Regions from separate parts of the Homo sapiens genome. Here region 1 is linked to region 2. Evidence: fine-mapped expression QTL. Tissue or cell type: whole blood. Region 2 holds a variant in brackets; the other region holds the start of a gene. All regions are shown on one strand. Distances are from middle to middle.

The links. PIP is the estimated chance that this variant, and not a neighbour inherited with it, causes the effect.
Region 1: CHRNA10 starts here. The variant in region 2 is fine-mapped to the expression of CHRNA10 in whole blood (TOPMed, PIP 0.95).

Annotation. Positions count from the first base shown.
Region 1 is chr11:3,666,469-3,674,468 of GRCh38, forward strand. CHRNA10 (cholinergic receptor nicotinic alpha 10 subunit) reads right to left here and starts at 4,916. Exons shown (of 5, transcript NM_020402.4): 1 at 4,784-4,916; 2 at 3,328-3,473; 3 at 2,728-2,882; 4 at 764-1,296; 5 at 1-96. The coding sequence starts at 4,844.
Region 2 is chr11:3,767,613-3,775,872 of GRCh38, forward strand. It overlaps NUP98 (nucleoporin 98 and 96 precursor), which reads right to left. Exons shown (of 33, transcript NM_016320.5): 6 at 6,020-6,127; 7 at 4,136-4,316; 8 at 969-1,132. Among named protein-coding and RNA genes, the nearest start is that of NUP98, 26 kb to the right of the region's middle. The variant C/A (reference allele first, on the strand shown) is at 4,558.

The DNA.
Region 1 (8,000 bases), 100 kb before region 2:
GGCGGACACTGGGACCACAGTAATGCAGGTTCATGATAAGGATGGTGAGTGCTGTTGAGAATGTGACCATGGTCATAGTGGCCATGTAGTACTTCCCTGCAAGAGAGAGAGAAAGCCAATTGACTCAAAACAAAAGCCTGTGGTTCCTGAGCTTCCCAGCCACCTCTGCACAAATGGAAATAAGCCCACCATGAAGCTCTCCAGACCCTCCAAGCCCCATGGATGGAAGCAGGAAGGAGGTAAGGGCCGAGTTCTCCCCATCCTTCATTCCTACACGTGGGTCATCGGAAGCTACTGCTCTCTAATTGCTCCCGTCACTGCTGGAGGCTGCACTCATACACAATCCAGGACAGTCCCGCTCTCAAATAACGACGGGCATGAGCTGGGGCAAGATACGAATCCTTTTTGTACAAATGGGATACCCAGAGGACCTACTTCCTAGGTTTGTGGTGATGCTTACCTGAGTTAATAAAGGTCAAGTGCTTAGGGGAGTGCCTGGCACACAGCAAGCAGTCGACAGATTTTGCCTATCATTAGGATCTGGGGATACTGATGTTCCATCATCAAGGGCCAAGTCGTGAGGGGTGTTCTCCCTGGAAGGAGCTAATCCTTTCCCCTCAGTCTTAAAATGAGGGCACGTTCCCAGGACGCCCCCCTCTCACTTTCTGCAGTGGGGCCGTTCCGCAGACCCAGGCCCTGTCGCGGCCCCGCCCTGGGGGGACCCCAGCGCATCGTCAGGTCCCCCCGCGCCCCCGCTGCTCACCGATGAGCGGCACGCTCTCGGCCGGTGGCATGCTCTCGGCCAGCAGCAACTGGAAGACGGTGAGCGCCAGCAGCACGGTGACGCCCAGCGACACCTTCTCGCCTGAGTCGGCAGGCAGGTGGAAGGCGAGCGGCGCAAGCAGCGAGATGAGCACGCAGGGCAGCAGCAGGTTGCACACGTAGGCGGCGGCGCGGCGGCGCAGCAGCAGCGTGAAGGTGACGTCGGGGTAGGGCTCGGAGCAGCAGCCGTAGGTGAGCACGCGCCGCCGCGCCGGCATGCCCAGCACGCGCCACTCCACGTTCTCCACGAAGTCCGCCAGGCTGGCTGCAGCGCCGCGCGGCCGCACATCCAGTTGGTGCCCGCCGTGAGTCCAGGAGCCGAACGTCAGGCCGCAGTGCTGGGCGTCGAACGGGAAGGCTGCTACATCCACGCGGCACGAGCTGCGCGTGATGGCCGGCGCGTCCCAGCGCACGGCGCCATCGTGGCGCAGGACCACGTTGGTGCTGGCGGAACCTGGAGGCTGCGCGTCGGCTCTGGGGGCAGGCGGGGCAGGGCTCACCTAGGCTGTCCAGCCTGAGGAGCAGCCCCGGAGGCCGGGAGCCCAGGGCAGACCCCCAGGGGCTGAAAGAAACCAAAACTTCTCCCCAGAATATTGAGGCTCGTTAAGTTCGAGACACTCACGACGCAGGGGAGCACCTGGCCCCAGCGTCTGCTGGCCTGATGGCAGGACATCAGCCCTTCCTTGCTGGAGTCAGCACTTGCTTATCCAAAGGGCACCAGTAGGTGCCAGAGGAATCTGGAAACAGATTTTACCCTCTTTCCACGTTTTCCCGCCTTTTAAAGGTGGCTGTCCTTTGTCTTGCCACTATTTATAACTTACTGGCTCTTTCTTGAATTTCTATTTAAGCAAGGCCCCTAAGTCACTGCCTTCAGAGAGAAATACTTTTGAACTAAGGCCTCTCCCATGATGGGTACAGCAGATTAATAAACTTCTGCTTGTGGCTGGGTGCGGTGGCTCACGCCTGTGATCCCAGCACTTTGGGAGGCCGAGGTGGGCGGATCACGAGGTCAGGAGATCGAGACCACCCTGGCTAACACGGTGAAACCTCGTCTGTACTAAAAATACAAAAAACTAGCTGGGCGTGGTGGCGGGTGCCTGCAGTCCCAGTTATTTGGGAGGTTGAGGCAGGAGAATTGCGTGAACCCGGGAGGCGGAGCTTGCAGTGAGCCGAGATAGCGCCACTGCACTCCAGCCTGGGCGACAGAGCGAGACTGTGTCTCAAATAAATAAATAAACTTGTGCTTGTTTTTTTTTCGTTAATTTGATTCTTGTTTTCAGAACAAAGCAACACAGAGGGTGGAGTGCACCTAGAGAGACCCGCTGCCTTTCGAGGCCTGGAAGGGGTGGTGCCTGAAGGGCCCAGAAGGGACACAGACGTAGCCAGAGGATGTATAAAAAGGCCTCTGCAGAACCCAGAGGTAGCTCCGGGACACACAGTGACTTCCCTTGGGGGACATCTGCAAAACTTGTAGAAGGGCCCCAGAGAAAATATGCAGAGCTATGTGCTGGCTGGGAGACACGGAACTGGTCAAGGAGACATAAAGCAGTGTTCCAGAGGGCTATGTCCTGGAGGAAAGAGACCCTTACACAGGCTCTTCGGGGAGCCCTGAGAGACTTAGAGCTAAAAGTGTGCCCTAGAGAGGCCCTTGTGATTCAGACAACTGCCCTGGACCACACAGTAGGTTCCGAGGAGACGTTCAGCCTGGGCTGGCCTGGGATAGCCTAAAGTGGGGGTGCCATGGAGGGGCTGAGTGCCTGGCAGCTTAGAAGGGTCCTGGGGAAAAGCTTCCAGGGCAGCGTGGCAACCAGGTTATGTGGTAGGGAGAGGGGATCACTACACCCCCACAGCTAAGGGCAAGTCTAGAGAGGGGTAAGAGAGAGGAGGGGCCCAGATAGGCAGTACTTGTTATAGAGTACGATGTCTGGCCGCCACACAAGACTGCTGGGGATGCGGATGGCATCCAGGCCACCATAGGCATTGGGGTCCCATCGTAGGTAGGCATCTGTCCACTCCTGCCGTATCCACAGATACAGGGTCAGCACCTGGTTCCGTTCATCCTAGTGGGGGCAGGGAATGGCAGAGATGTGGACATGTATATGCATATCCTGCCCTGTCTGTGCACACTCCCCTGCAGGGCTCTGGTCAGCACCCACAAACCTGACTTGTCCATACCGTCCAGTTCCCACCCAGACCTGACCTTGCCATGTGACCTTAGTGGGCTCTTCTCTTTTCTGCCCCTGTTTCCTCAGCAGGAATATGGGGTGAGAATCCCTGCTTAGCAGGGATTCAGTAAGTTCAGGTGAACAAAATATTGGGCACGAGGTAGGCACCCAATACTCAGTACCCAACAGTCAGTACCCAACAGTTTGTAACTGCTACCTTTGTTAATATTAACATTTACAGAAAAGAAATTCCATGGAGAATAATCCCAGTCTCTCACCCCTTCATTTCTTGACACTGTGACAGGTAAGACTCCACAGCTGTACCACCACCACAACGCACCATGTCGATGATCTGGGACAGTGTCACCTCCAGGGTCACATTCAGAGTCTGGTCTGTGTCTGCCACAGGTCTCAGGGCACTTGTGTAGTTGGCAAAGAGGTCACGGAACAGCTTGAGAGCCAGCCGGCCCTCAGCTCCCAGGCACTCTGGAGGGTCAGTAAGGAGGGTTGTCCATCCCAGGCCCTAGTCCCAGGGCCTCTGCTCACACCCTCCACTCCCAGGGCTGGGGCCCTGTCCTTATGAGTGTCCTCCTGGTGTCTGCCTTCTCTTGCTCTAGCTGTGGCTCTAGTTCCTCCCTGGCCTGCCTGCAGGGACACATGAGGTAAAGGCCATGGAGTGAACTGGTACTATCTTCTGGCGCCAGGCTGACAAATTTCTCCTCCACCCTCCCCTTTTCAAGGACCTGGAGTCTGCCTGCCTCTCCACAAATGCTAGAGGGGCCCAAATAAGCCACAAGAGTCCAGACTTTCACCCAGGGATTCTAAACCCCACTGCTCTGCCCCCTCCAGTATCTCTCAAACCTGTTTCCACTTCTCCATCTCGAGCTGGTTTCTTCAAAACTTCTGATGCGATGGAACACTCCCTCACTCTGAAAACACACTTCCCCAGGCTTTACTGACACAAATTTTCCTCAATCCCTGACCTAAACATTGTTCCCATGAATCCTGTCCTTGGCTCCCATCTTTTTCTTCATCCCAGATTTTTCTCCTGAGCTCCAGACCCCAATAGAGTACAGTCCACTCCTGAGTTTCCCACAGGCACCTTCAACTCTGAGGGTCCAAAATATGAACTCGCTTCCTCCCTCCATGCTCTGAAACCTGCTTCCTATCCCATGTTCCCTATCTCAGCAAATAGCATGCCCTCAGCTTCAACAGTGACCTTAGTTGGAAATCTGGGAATTATCCCTCCCTTCTCCCTCTGCTGCCTCCTCCTCGGGGAATCCAGTTAATCTCCAGATCCTGTCAGATCATTCAAATCCTCCAGATTTTGCGAAACATCGTCTTGAGTCTACCCTCTCCCCTCCAGGTCAGGGCCCTCCCTTCACTGTCTCCCTTTCCCCAAAGGCTCACCTTCTTCTACCCCTCCCATGCCCCAGGACCACGCTTTTAAGCATGCACATCTGACCAGGCTAGTATGCTGCTGAAACCTTTCAGTGCTCCCCGTCATCTGCAGGAGAAAGACCTGGCCTGGCCGGCAGGCCCTTCAACATCTGGCCCCTCTGATTTTCCCAGCCCTGTCTCTGGAAGCTCCCCGCTCACTGTTTCCACCCTAGCCAGGCAAGTCTCCTCTCACGCACTTCAGCACCCCTCTCCTCCACACTCCCCAAATAGAGAGCTTGTTCTCAGAACAGGTACTGAGGAGAAACACAAGAGAGACTACATGGAAAGGGATTTTGGGAGAACAGGAATAGTAGCACCACCAGGAGAGGCCAGGGCTGGTGTACTGAGCTTCATACCTGCAGGGAGTAGAAACAGAAGCAGAAGGCCCAGGCTGAGGTGGTGGCTCCGGAGCCCCATGGCCCTGGCACTGCAAGAGCGGGGGCAGGTCTCTGGATGTGAGGCCTCCTGGCCAGACCTAGGGCAAAATTAGGCCCAGCTGGCAAGGATGGTGTGGACAGTACCTAGAAGTCAGAAGTAAGACAGATCTCTGGTGGGTCCAGCCACCCTCCAGCGAGCCCTGCAGCCCCTCCAGTCTTCTGACCCTCCAATTTGTGCCTGCCCCTGGATTTTAGTACTTGGTCTTTCTTCTTCTCTGCTGGTCCTTGCCTCTTCTGGCCTCTGCCTCTGCCCTTTCCTATGCTCCCCACCTGCTTTGTCTTTCACTCTGTTTCTGCTTCCTTCTCTTTCCGTCTGTAACTTTCTTGGTCTCTCTGCCTCCCTGACTCTGATCATCCCCTGCCTGCCTCTTTCCACTCTCTCTCCCTTTCTCCTACTTCTGTTTCATCCCTCATTCCTTCCTTCTTCCATTCCCCACACCTGGACTCTAGATGGGCCTGCTGCTCTCTCAGCAGAACAGGGACCAGGGACTCCTCCCTTGATCAGCCCAGAGTCGTCCGAGGCACAGGACCACAGCCCCTCCCTCTCTGCCCTTTCATTAGCTTAATTACACCGTGCCTATGACAACAGAGCAACGGAAACTGATACCTCGGGCCTCTGGGGCTTGAATTATTCAAACTCTGTAAAGCAGCACACAGACTCAGCTCAGGCCCATCCTCGGGTGTTGGAGAGTACAGGTATGCTGGGTCAGGGTATGTGGAAGACCAGGGCTTAAGAGTGTGAGGGGCCAGGGTCAGTGGATGGATAACTGTCCTCTCATCTTAGCCACCATTGCCTGAATTCTGGAGGTGGAGGTTTGCCTTAGACCTGCAGCTCTCCTTGCAGTGCGGGACTAGACACTCCAGGCTAGGCACTTTGGGTCAAGCAAGCCCTTCCCTCCTGGTGGGAGTAGTGCTGAGCCTCAGGCCACTCCAGATGACCCAGTGGAGCAGAAGATGGAGCCCACATCCTCTCCTCAGACTCCCTGCAGTCATTCCCATCTGAGCCTGTTTTTTCACCTTGCCCAAACACTGTGGGCAGTGTGGGAGAAGAGGGCAAGCATTCAGTCACTTTCGGCCCTGTCTTATGAGCGCTCTCACTTGGGTAAGATATTTAAACTCTCTGGGTTTCTGTTCTCTCAATCTGGTAATGGGATTAACAGTACTCATCTTGAAAACTGCAAGGATTTAAATGAGATAACCTGATAGTGCAAGGCACTGTCTAGCACGGTGCCTAAGGTACAGCAGGTCATCAACAATATTTACACTGTGGTCCCAGTAAGGTAGCCAGGCTATCCTCAGGTCACAGGTATTTATCATGCACAGAGTTTTGATTATTTTTGTTCAAGCTGACCAGTTGCCTGACCAACAGCAGCACATACTTCCCTGGCAATCACATCCATAGCCATGACTTTGGGCATCGTGGATATGCCAGTGATTCCCTGCACTTTCTCCACCCGTCCCCTCTCCCAGGTACTCTGCTTATCTCCAACCACCTTCCTAACACACAAGCGTTTCACATCATTTCAAATTGAAATCCAACATTCACTTATTCAAGCTAGTAGAGGGGAACTGTCCTTAACTTGTTAAAGAACAACTACCAAAATACCCTACAGCCATCCTGCCACCTCAGCCTCCTGAATAGCTGGAACTAAAGGTGCACACCACCCAGCTAATTTTTGTTCATTTTTTAAGAGACAAGGTCTCCCTATGTTGCCTAGGCTGGTCTTAAACTCCTGGGCTCAAGGGATTCTCCCTCCTCAGCCTCCCGAGGTGCTGGGATTACAGGCGTGAGCCATCGTGCCCAACCAATACAAGGTTTAACAAATCCTTAGGAAAGCCTAAGAAATGAACATTTAAAGCAGAAATTAAGATTATACAGAACTCCAGTAAAATTGATTAATACGTCTAAGGACTGGTTATTTGAATAACAAAAAATCTGGAACAATTTTCTGGAAATACAAATTAACAAAACTGAGCTAAAGATGAAACATCTAAAAAGAGCAGATACTCTGCAGGCCTTTGCTTAATTATTCCAATATTTAATTCTCCAGACCTCTGTTAACTTTGGGTTCTGTTGAGAAAATAAGTTATTTGAATGTTGTAGATTCCACAGATCTATCGAATGTTGAGGTAACTGGTTCCTGTTTTATGTTTTTGAGAATTTTTTTTGAAATTAAAACATTTTTTACTATTTCAACGGGATTTTGGGATGTGGAAGAGATTGTTCAGGCCTGGCGCGGTGGCTCACGTCTGTAATCCCAGCACTTTGGGAGGCCAAGGCAGGCTTATCACGAGGTCAGGAGATCGAGACCATCCTGGCTAACACGGTGAAACCCCGTCTCTACTGAAAATACAAAAAAAAATTAGTCGGGCATGGTGGCGGGTGCCTGTGGTCCTAGCTACTTGGGAGGCTGAGGAAGGAGAATGGCATGAACCCGGGAGGTGGAGCTTGCAGATCGTGCCCCACTGCACTCCAGCCTGGGGGACAGAGCGAGACTCTGTCTCAAAAAAAAAAAAAAAAAAGAAGAGATTGTTCATCACCCTTATCTTGAACTGGAAGTTGATATTCTCTTTTATGCACAACATGGCTTCTATGATAAACCTTTGATTGAGAACCTTTTTTTTCTTGCTCTGTTGCCCAGGCTGGAGTGCAGTGGCACAATCATGGCTCGCTGCAGCCTTCAGCTCCTAGGCTCAAGCGATCCTCTTGCTTAGGCCTCTTGAGTAGCTGGGACTATGCACACACACCACCATGCCCAACTAATTTTATTTTTTTTTAGAGACAGAGTCTTGTCATGTAGCCTGGGGTGGTCTTGAACTCCTGGCCTCAAACGATCCTCCCACCTTGGTCTCCCAAAGTGCTGGGATTACAGGTGTGAGCCACCACTCCTGGCCCACAATTCCGAACACTGCTAAGAGCTAACCATTTCTATAGCATACTCACTTTCTGAAACATTCCTCTGGTAAGGAAACCAGGTCAGGTGTTCTTTGCTGGAAGTCCAACTATGTTTTGTGACTCACTCAGGTTCACATAGTGAGTCAGTAGTGGAGGGGATTCCAGCTGAGTAACCCCTATCCTGAGGCATCTAAGTTAAATGGAAGTTCCAGACAACAGAGCTGACCCACTCTGCTTTCT
Region 2 (8,260 bases):
GCCCAGCCCATACTTGTTTTTTAATCAGTAAAAGTATCTCTAATTTTAAGACGAGGTAAATTCCAAGTCCTGATCAATTACTCATACATCACTTCCTTCTTTAATTTCATACTTCCCTAAAAAATGTCCCTAGAAATAAACTAGTAATGACCATGAGGACCTTTTCTTTGGACACAGTATGGCTCTAAGTCGTAGGTCTCCCTTTAAAAAAAAAAAACAAAAAAACTTCTTTGTATGATTCCCAAGGGAACTAGGTGAACGTTCCCTTAGTTCCTGTTGTTGGCTATATTCTGAAATATAGTCAGTAATGAATAAGTATTTTCTCCTATACCCTATAGAATGGCTGTAGTCAATTTTCCAAGGTATAGCTTTAAGAGGGCCAAGTCCAGCCCACTAAGTAGTTCCTACTTAGTAATGAGAAAAATACTTTCAGAAAGGATAAGTGATCGCCTCAATAGCATCTCAACAAGTAAAGAGTAGAGCCCAGGCTAGAATCTAGGTCTTAATTATTCTAAGACTTTGTTCTTGGCCGGGCACGGTGGCTCATGCCTATAATCCCAGCACTTTGGGAGGCCGAGGTGGGCGGATCACGAGGTCAGGAGATCGAGACCATCCTGGCAAACACGGTGAAACCCCATCTGTACTAAAAACACAAAAAATTAGCTGGACATGGTGGTGGACACCTGTAGTCCCAGCTACTCGGGAGGCTGAGGCAGGAGAATGGCATGAACCTGGGAGGCGGAGCTTGCAGTGAGCTGAGACTGGGCCACTGCACTACAGCCTGGGTGACAGAGCGAGACTCCATCTCAAAAAAAAAAAAAAAAACTTTGTTCTCTTCCCTTCATTAAATACCCTCAACTCTTAAGATTTGCAGTACAGGTAGAATTTGCTAGTTTGACATGATTAGAATCCTCATTACTTAACTCTAAAAATAAGACATGGAGGTAAGTAAGGGTCTGTTTCCTTACCATGGTGTTGGTGCTTGGCTGTCCTATGGTGCTGGTATTACCAAAGGAAAAGCCAGTGTTCTGGGTGGTTGTAGCCTGGCCAAATGGTTTGCTGAAGAGGCTGGTAGTCTGCTGATTCTGTTGGCCAAAGAGACCACCTGGATTTGTTCCAAATCCAGTTGTACCTTTTAGGAAAAAGAAAAAAAAAAGAAAAAAGAAATAATAAAAAAAATGTAAACACCCAAAAATACAAAACCTTCCATTATCCAGTTGTTGTAATAGTCTTTATGTTATCTACTACCCTTCATTCACTACTTGATCATCTTTTCGTTTTCCATCCTTCACTTAACTCTAGATTTAAACTTTAACTTCTGTAATAACATCCTTACCCCAAGAAGCTTAACTAGGCTAAATGATCTTCCCTTGTAAGTCCACAGCTTCCTTCTGTTTTACAAGATAATACACTAGAAGTCAGCATGTGTATTTTAACCTTGCTAGTCTAGGTTAATGAGAACAAAGGCTTCTTCTTTACATGAATATATCCAGCCCAGAGTCTGATATGTAATATTCAATAATGAATATGGGCCAGGCACAGTGGCTCACACCTGTAATAACAACATTTTGGGAGGCCAAGGCAGGAGGATCACTTGAGGACAGGAGTTCCTGAACAGCCTAGGCAACACAATGGGACCCCATCTCTACAAAAAAATTTTAAAAATTAGTCAGGCTAATGGCACTTGCCTGTGGTCTTAGCTACTTGGGAGACCGAGGTGGGTATATGGCTTGAGCCTGGGAGTTTGAGGCAGCGGGGAGCTGTGATGGAGCCACTGCACGACAGCCTGGGTGACAGAGCTAGACAGTGTCCTCCAACCCCCACCAAAAAAACAGAAAAAATTATGAAACATTAGCCAGGCAGAATGGTGGGAATATTACTTGGGCCCAAGAGTTCAAGGCTGCAGTGAGCTATGATTGCTCCACTGCACTCCAGCCTGGTCAACAAAGTGGGATTCTGTCTCAAAAAAAAAAAAAAAAAAAAAAGCATACTAAACTAAATCATGGAATATCAAGATTGAAAAGTACGTTAGGCTGGACATGGTGGTTCACACTGGGAGGCTGAGACGGGTGATCACCTGAGATCAGGAGTTCGAGACCAGCATGGCCAATATGGTGAAACCCCGTCCCTGCTAAAAATTAGGGCTGGACGGCCAGCCATGGTGGCTCATGCCTGTAATCCCAGCACTTTGAGAGGCCGAGGCGGGTGGATCATAAGGTCTGGAGTTCAGATCAGCCTGGCCAAGACGGTAAAACCCCATCTGTACTAAAAATACAAAAAAATCAGCCAGGCATGGTGGTGGGCATCTGTAATCCCAGCTACTTCAGATGCTGAGGCAGAGAATCGCTTGAACCCAGGAGGTGGAGGATGCAGTGAGCCGAGATCACACCACTGCACTCCAGCCTGGGTGACAGAGCGAAACTCCATCTCAAAAAAAAAAAAAACAATTAGGGCTGGCACCATGGCTCACGCCTATAATCCCAGCGCTTTGGGAGGCCGAGGCTGGTTAATCGCCTGAGGTCAGGGGTTCGAGACCAGCCTGGCCAACATGGTGAAACCCCAACTCTATTAAAAATATAAAAAATTGGCCAGGCATGGTGGCGGGTGCCTGTAATCCCAACTCCTTGGGAGGCTGAGGCAGAAGAATCGCTTGAACCTGGGAATTGGAGGTTGCACTGCACTCCAGCTTGGGCAACAGTGAGACTCCGTCTCAAAAAAATAAAATAAAATTAGTCGGGTGTGGTGGCACATGCCTGTAGGGTGGCTGAGGTAGGAGAATCACCTGAGCCCAGGAAATCAGGGCTGTAGTGAGCCCTGATCACATCACTGCACTCCAGCATGAGTGACGGGAGTAAGACCCTAAAACCCTGTCTCAAGAAAAGAAAAGAAAAGAAAAGAAAAAGTAGGTTAAATATAACTTAGATAAATACGTATTTGTGTGTGTGTGTGTGTGTGTGTGTGTATGTACATCTCTTTAGAAGGCTATGAAAAGCTATAATTTTTGCTTTTCTCTACAGAGGCAAACTGGTGGCTGGGGAAAGTGTATAAGGCAAGTATATAACCTCTGGTTATTTAGTTTTCTGTATTTTGTGAACTTTGTATCACATATGTGCATTACTTTTGCAAAAGTAGTATTTTTGTCAAGTAATCATCATCTTTAACTCCTCTTTCACATCCCACATTAAACCAATGCATCGGCAAATTCCATCAGTTCTATAATCAAACTGGGTCCAGAACCTCATCTTTTTTCTTTTCCGTCCTTTTTATTTAGAGATGGAGTCTTGCTGTCACCCAGGCTGGAGTGCAATGGTGTGATCTCAGATCACTGCAACCTCTGCCTCCCAGGTTCAAGCGATTCTCCTGCCTCAGCCTCCCAAGTAGTTGGGATTACAGGTGCTTGTCACCACGCCTGGCTAATTTTCATATTTTTAGTAGAGGCAGGGTTTTACCATGTTGGCCAGGCTAGTCTTGAACTCCTGACCTCAAGCAACCCACCTGCCTTGGCCTCCCAAAGTGCTAGGACTGCAGGCGTGAGCCACCACACTTGGCCTCTTTTCCATCCTTGTCCAAGACACTAACACCTCTTATGTTGATAATAGCTTTCTAAGTAATTTGTTTCTACTCTTACAATCTACTGTCAATATAGGAGACTTCAGAATCATCCTTCACTCACAATCACATGACTTCTCTTTCAAAACAACTTTCAGGATTTCCTAAATCAAATAAAAATTCAAGTCTTGATATTGGCCTACAAAGTCGTATAAAATATGGCCCCTATATCCCCCAGTATTTTCCCTTGCCCTCTCTTCAAATGGCAAAAACTCAGAGTTTTTAGACTCAGTTTCCACTAGCTGGAATGTTCTTCCCCCAGAAATCTGTACAACTTGCTCCTTCATCTTCTTCAGATACGTCACTGCTCAAACATCACCTTCTCCTCTGAAGCATTCCTTAGTCGTCTTCATCTTAAACTGTCTTTCTCCCTTTCCCCACATACATCCAGGCATTCCTCCCTATTCCTATGGTATCCCTGAATTATTATTTTTCTCCATAGCACTTATCCCAAAATGGCAATTATGTTTTAGTTTTAGTTATCTGTCTCTCCTCAGTATAATCTAACATGATATCAAGTGCTTACTAGTTCCAAAGGCAGTTTTGTTCTGACCATATGCAAAGCCTGAATTAGTGGTGGAGGAGCTGAAGAGTCCTGTTGCGCTGGAAGTGGCTGGAGAAGACCCAAACAAGCCAGTTGTGGTACCTGCTCCCACCTGGTTCTGTGGGCCCTTCCTGTTAGCCTGATAATCCTCTAAACGAAGTTCCTGAAGGGAGGGAAAACATATTTCTAATCTTAACATGCAGCTAAAAATAATTATTTAGGAGGCTAAATACTTGAATTTAGTATTCAAGTTCTATGTTCACATAGGAACCATAACTAAAAAAGAGAAAACTAAGGAATGACATTATATCATTACAGAAAAACATTTCCAATAGACACTAAAATCCATACCATAATTATCATAAAACTACAAGCCAAAGAGTCAATATCTTAATCTCAGTTTT[C/A]TTTCACAAACAATACACTCTTTTGGTAAAATGTCATAAAATAATCCTAACTCTCCCCAGCCCTAAAATATAAAAATAAAATAAAAATAAAAATTATAGTGAATTAACATATGTAGATTCTGTGGGGCAAAAAATTTAGAAAATAAAGTTTATCAATTTTGTCTCAAGTCCGGATGTTCCTGGCACAGCCCAATAAAGTAAGCATAGTTTGGTATGTAGAAAGAAGCAATCACTATAATCATGAATGACTATCAAAATGTACAACAACCTACTACATAAGCAATAAGAATGAACAAACTAACTTCATGCAACAACATGGATGACTATCTCAATGTTCAAAGACAGCCATTAAAAAGTACATAATGTGCCTGGGTGCTGCAGCTCATGCCTGTAATCCCAGCACTTTGGGAGGCTGAGGTGGACGGATCACAAGGCCAGGGTTCAAGAACAGCCCGGCCAACGTAGCAAAATCCCATCTCTACTAAAAATACAAAAATTAGCTGGGCATAGTGGCGTGCAGCTGCAATCCCAGCTACTCAGGAGGCTGAGGCAGGAGACTGCTTAAATCCAGGAGGCAGAGATTGTAGTGAGCTGAGATCACGCCACTGCACTCCAGCCTAGGCAACAGAGCAAGACTCGTCTCAAAAAAAAAAAAAAAATTAGCTGTGTGTGGTGGCCCACACCTGTAATCCAAGCTACTAGGGAGGCTGAGGCACGAGAATTGCTTGAACCTAGGAGGTGGAGGTTGTAGTGAGCCAAGATGTGCCACTGCACACCAGACTGGGTGACGGAGTGAGATGCTGTCTCAAAAACAAACAAACAAAAAAAACAAAAAAAAACCAACTTTTATTAAGCTGTACTTTGCATAATTTTACTAAAAACACCTTCATATGCATGCATACACATTGCCCAGTGTAACAGAAGCAACATCCAATCAGAACAGATGATTAGACTGGGCTCAGTGGCTCATGCCTGTTATCCCAGCACATTGGGAGGCTGAGGAAGAAAAATCGCTTGAGCTCAGGAGTCTGAGACCGGCCTGAGCAACATAGTGAGACCTCACCTCTACAAAAAAATTTTTAAAAATTAGCTGGGCGTGGGGCACATGCCAGTGGTCCCACCTACTTCGGAGGCTAAGGACATGAAGCCTGGGAAGCTGAGACTGCAGTGAGCTGTGATTGTGTCACTGCATTCCAGCCTGGGCAAAAAAGCCCATCTCAAAAAAAAAAAAAGACCATTAGGGGTGCTAGACCTTCACATACCCCTGAATATTATCCCTGCCTAAACAAGTAGATATCTATAAATAATACTTGATTTTTAAAAATAATTTGGTTAATGTTAATTTTTTACATAAACCCAAACTGAACCACTCTATCCTAAAGAAAATCAAAACCATTTTTAAAAGCTGCATTCCAATAAAATCAAAAGGTTAGACTGACATTCTGTATTGTATTTTACTGACCTCTAGTGACTTGCTTTCATATTCTTTCATAGCAGTAATACACTGGTGCTTGGTACTTATGTTAGTGCTAACTCCAGCTTTGACCATAGTATCTGTACCAGTTGGAGGCTGCAAAGTTAAATAAAGGCAAATTTGTAGGTCCAAGTTTTACATTCCTACTCTCTCAGATACAATTTCTCAACCACTGAACTCTAAAACTAGTCCCCCCAGGTCTTTTATACTGAGATGGTTTCAAGGGTGCTTGATTAAATATACTGCCATTTCTGATCTCTCCCTACATCAAGGTTATCTGAATAAATCGATCTTAGTAACAAAGTAATCACAAACGCAGGGATTAATCCCATAACCCAAGCCATCCAATTACATGGTAAAATACATGTAATATTATGCATAAAGAAAGCTTTACCCAATATATACCTTTAAACCTCTATATCTAAGTTCTCCTTTCTACTCCGCCCTGTAATGCTGCATTAAAAAAATACGGAGGGCCAGGAGCGGTGGCTCACGCCTGTAATCCTAGCACTCTGGGAGGCCGAGGCGGGTGGATCATGAGGTCAGGAGTTCGAGACCAGCCTGGCTAATATGGTGAAACCCCGTCTCTACTAAAAAATAAAAAAATAAAAAATAAAAATGAGCCAGGCGTGGTAGCGTGCACCTGTAGTCCCAGCTACTCAGGAGGCTGAGGCAGGAGAATCGCTTGAATCCGAGAAGCGGAGGTTGCAGTGAGCCAAGACCGTGCCACTGCACTCTGGCCTGGGCGACAGAGTGAGACTCCATCTCAAAAAACAGCAACAACAAAAAAACAGAAACTGGCCAGGCGCAGTGGCTCACACCTGCAGTCCCAGCACTTTGGGAGGCCGAGGCGGGTGGATCACTTGAGGTCAGGAGTTGAAGACCAGCCTGGCCAACATGGTGAAACCCCATCTCTACTAAAAATACAAAAATTAGCTTGGGTGGGTGCCTGTAATCCCAGCTACTTGGGAGGCTGAGGCAGCAGAATCGCTTGAACCAGGAGGCAGAGGTTGCAGTGAGCCAAGATTGCACCACTGCGCTCCCGTCTGGCTGACTCTGTCTCCAAAAAAAAAAAAGAAATATGGAAACCTGTTTTTCCCCGATAACATTACAAGGAAAAAGGCACAATAAGTAAAACTAACGATTCCTGCTGGTATTGCCAGTTTTCTCAACTACTGCACTTTCCAAAGGGCATCACACAGTATTCTTCACTATCATTTTATGTTTTAACTTCAAATTCGGGGTTGTAAATTTAGTACTATGAATTAACCAATTTACCTGACAAATTCTTCATTTTCTGGAGTATATTTTAACAAGTTTTATTTCTGCCAAAGATTTCCATTAGGCTAACTGCACCTCCAGCATACCCTAAGAATCCCCCAAACATTTACATCAAGTGGCATTCCACATGTTTCTGTAAACAAAATCCTCCACTCTAGCCCTCCACCCAATCCCTCTCAAAAAAAGAACACATACACAATAAACTTTACAGCCCCATTTAGCCATTTCATCAACAAAACCTGTATTTTTCAGTGGGTACAGAATGCTGATGAGTTACTCTTATTTGCCCCCTATTCTTTATTCCCATAAAGATTAGTTGACCAGGCCGGGCATGGTGGCTCATGCCTGTAATCCCAACACTTTGGGAGGCAGAGGTGGGCAGATCACCTGAGGTCAGCAGTTCGAGACCAGCCTGGCCACCATGGTGAAACGCCATCTCTACTACAAAAAACTACAAAAAAATTAGCTGGGTATGGTGGTGGACTCTTGTAATCACAGCTACTCAGGAGGCGGAGGCAGGAGAATCACTTGAACCCAGGAGGTAGAGGTTGCAGTGAGCTGAGATTGCACCACCACACTCCAGCCTGGGCAACAAGAGCGAAACTCCATCTTAAAAAAACAAAATAACAAAAAAAAAAAAGAAAATTGAACAGTTGACCATTCAGAAGCAAATTCTTAACACAGTAAATTCAAATTCTACCTTACACCAGATTATAATAAAGTTTTATGAATACAAATTTTATTGGGATGAGCCTAATTCAAATATACATCGTAATCTAGATTTACATTTCACAAGTGTTCCTGTCTACTATACAACTATTTATAGATTTTGTTTTTAACACATCGTTCAGGCAGTGTCAAGCTAAGCTGGAAAGAGAAGCAATTTTACAATTCATCCTGCAAAGAAATATACATGCGGGAAAAAACATTCCACAAAGATTGGAAGAA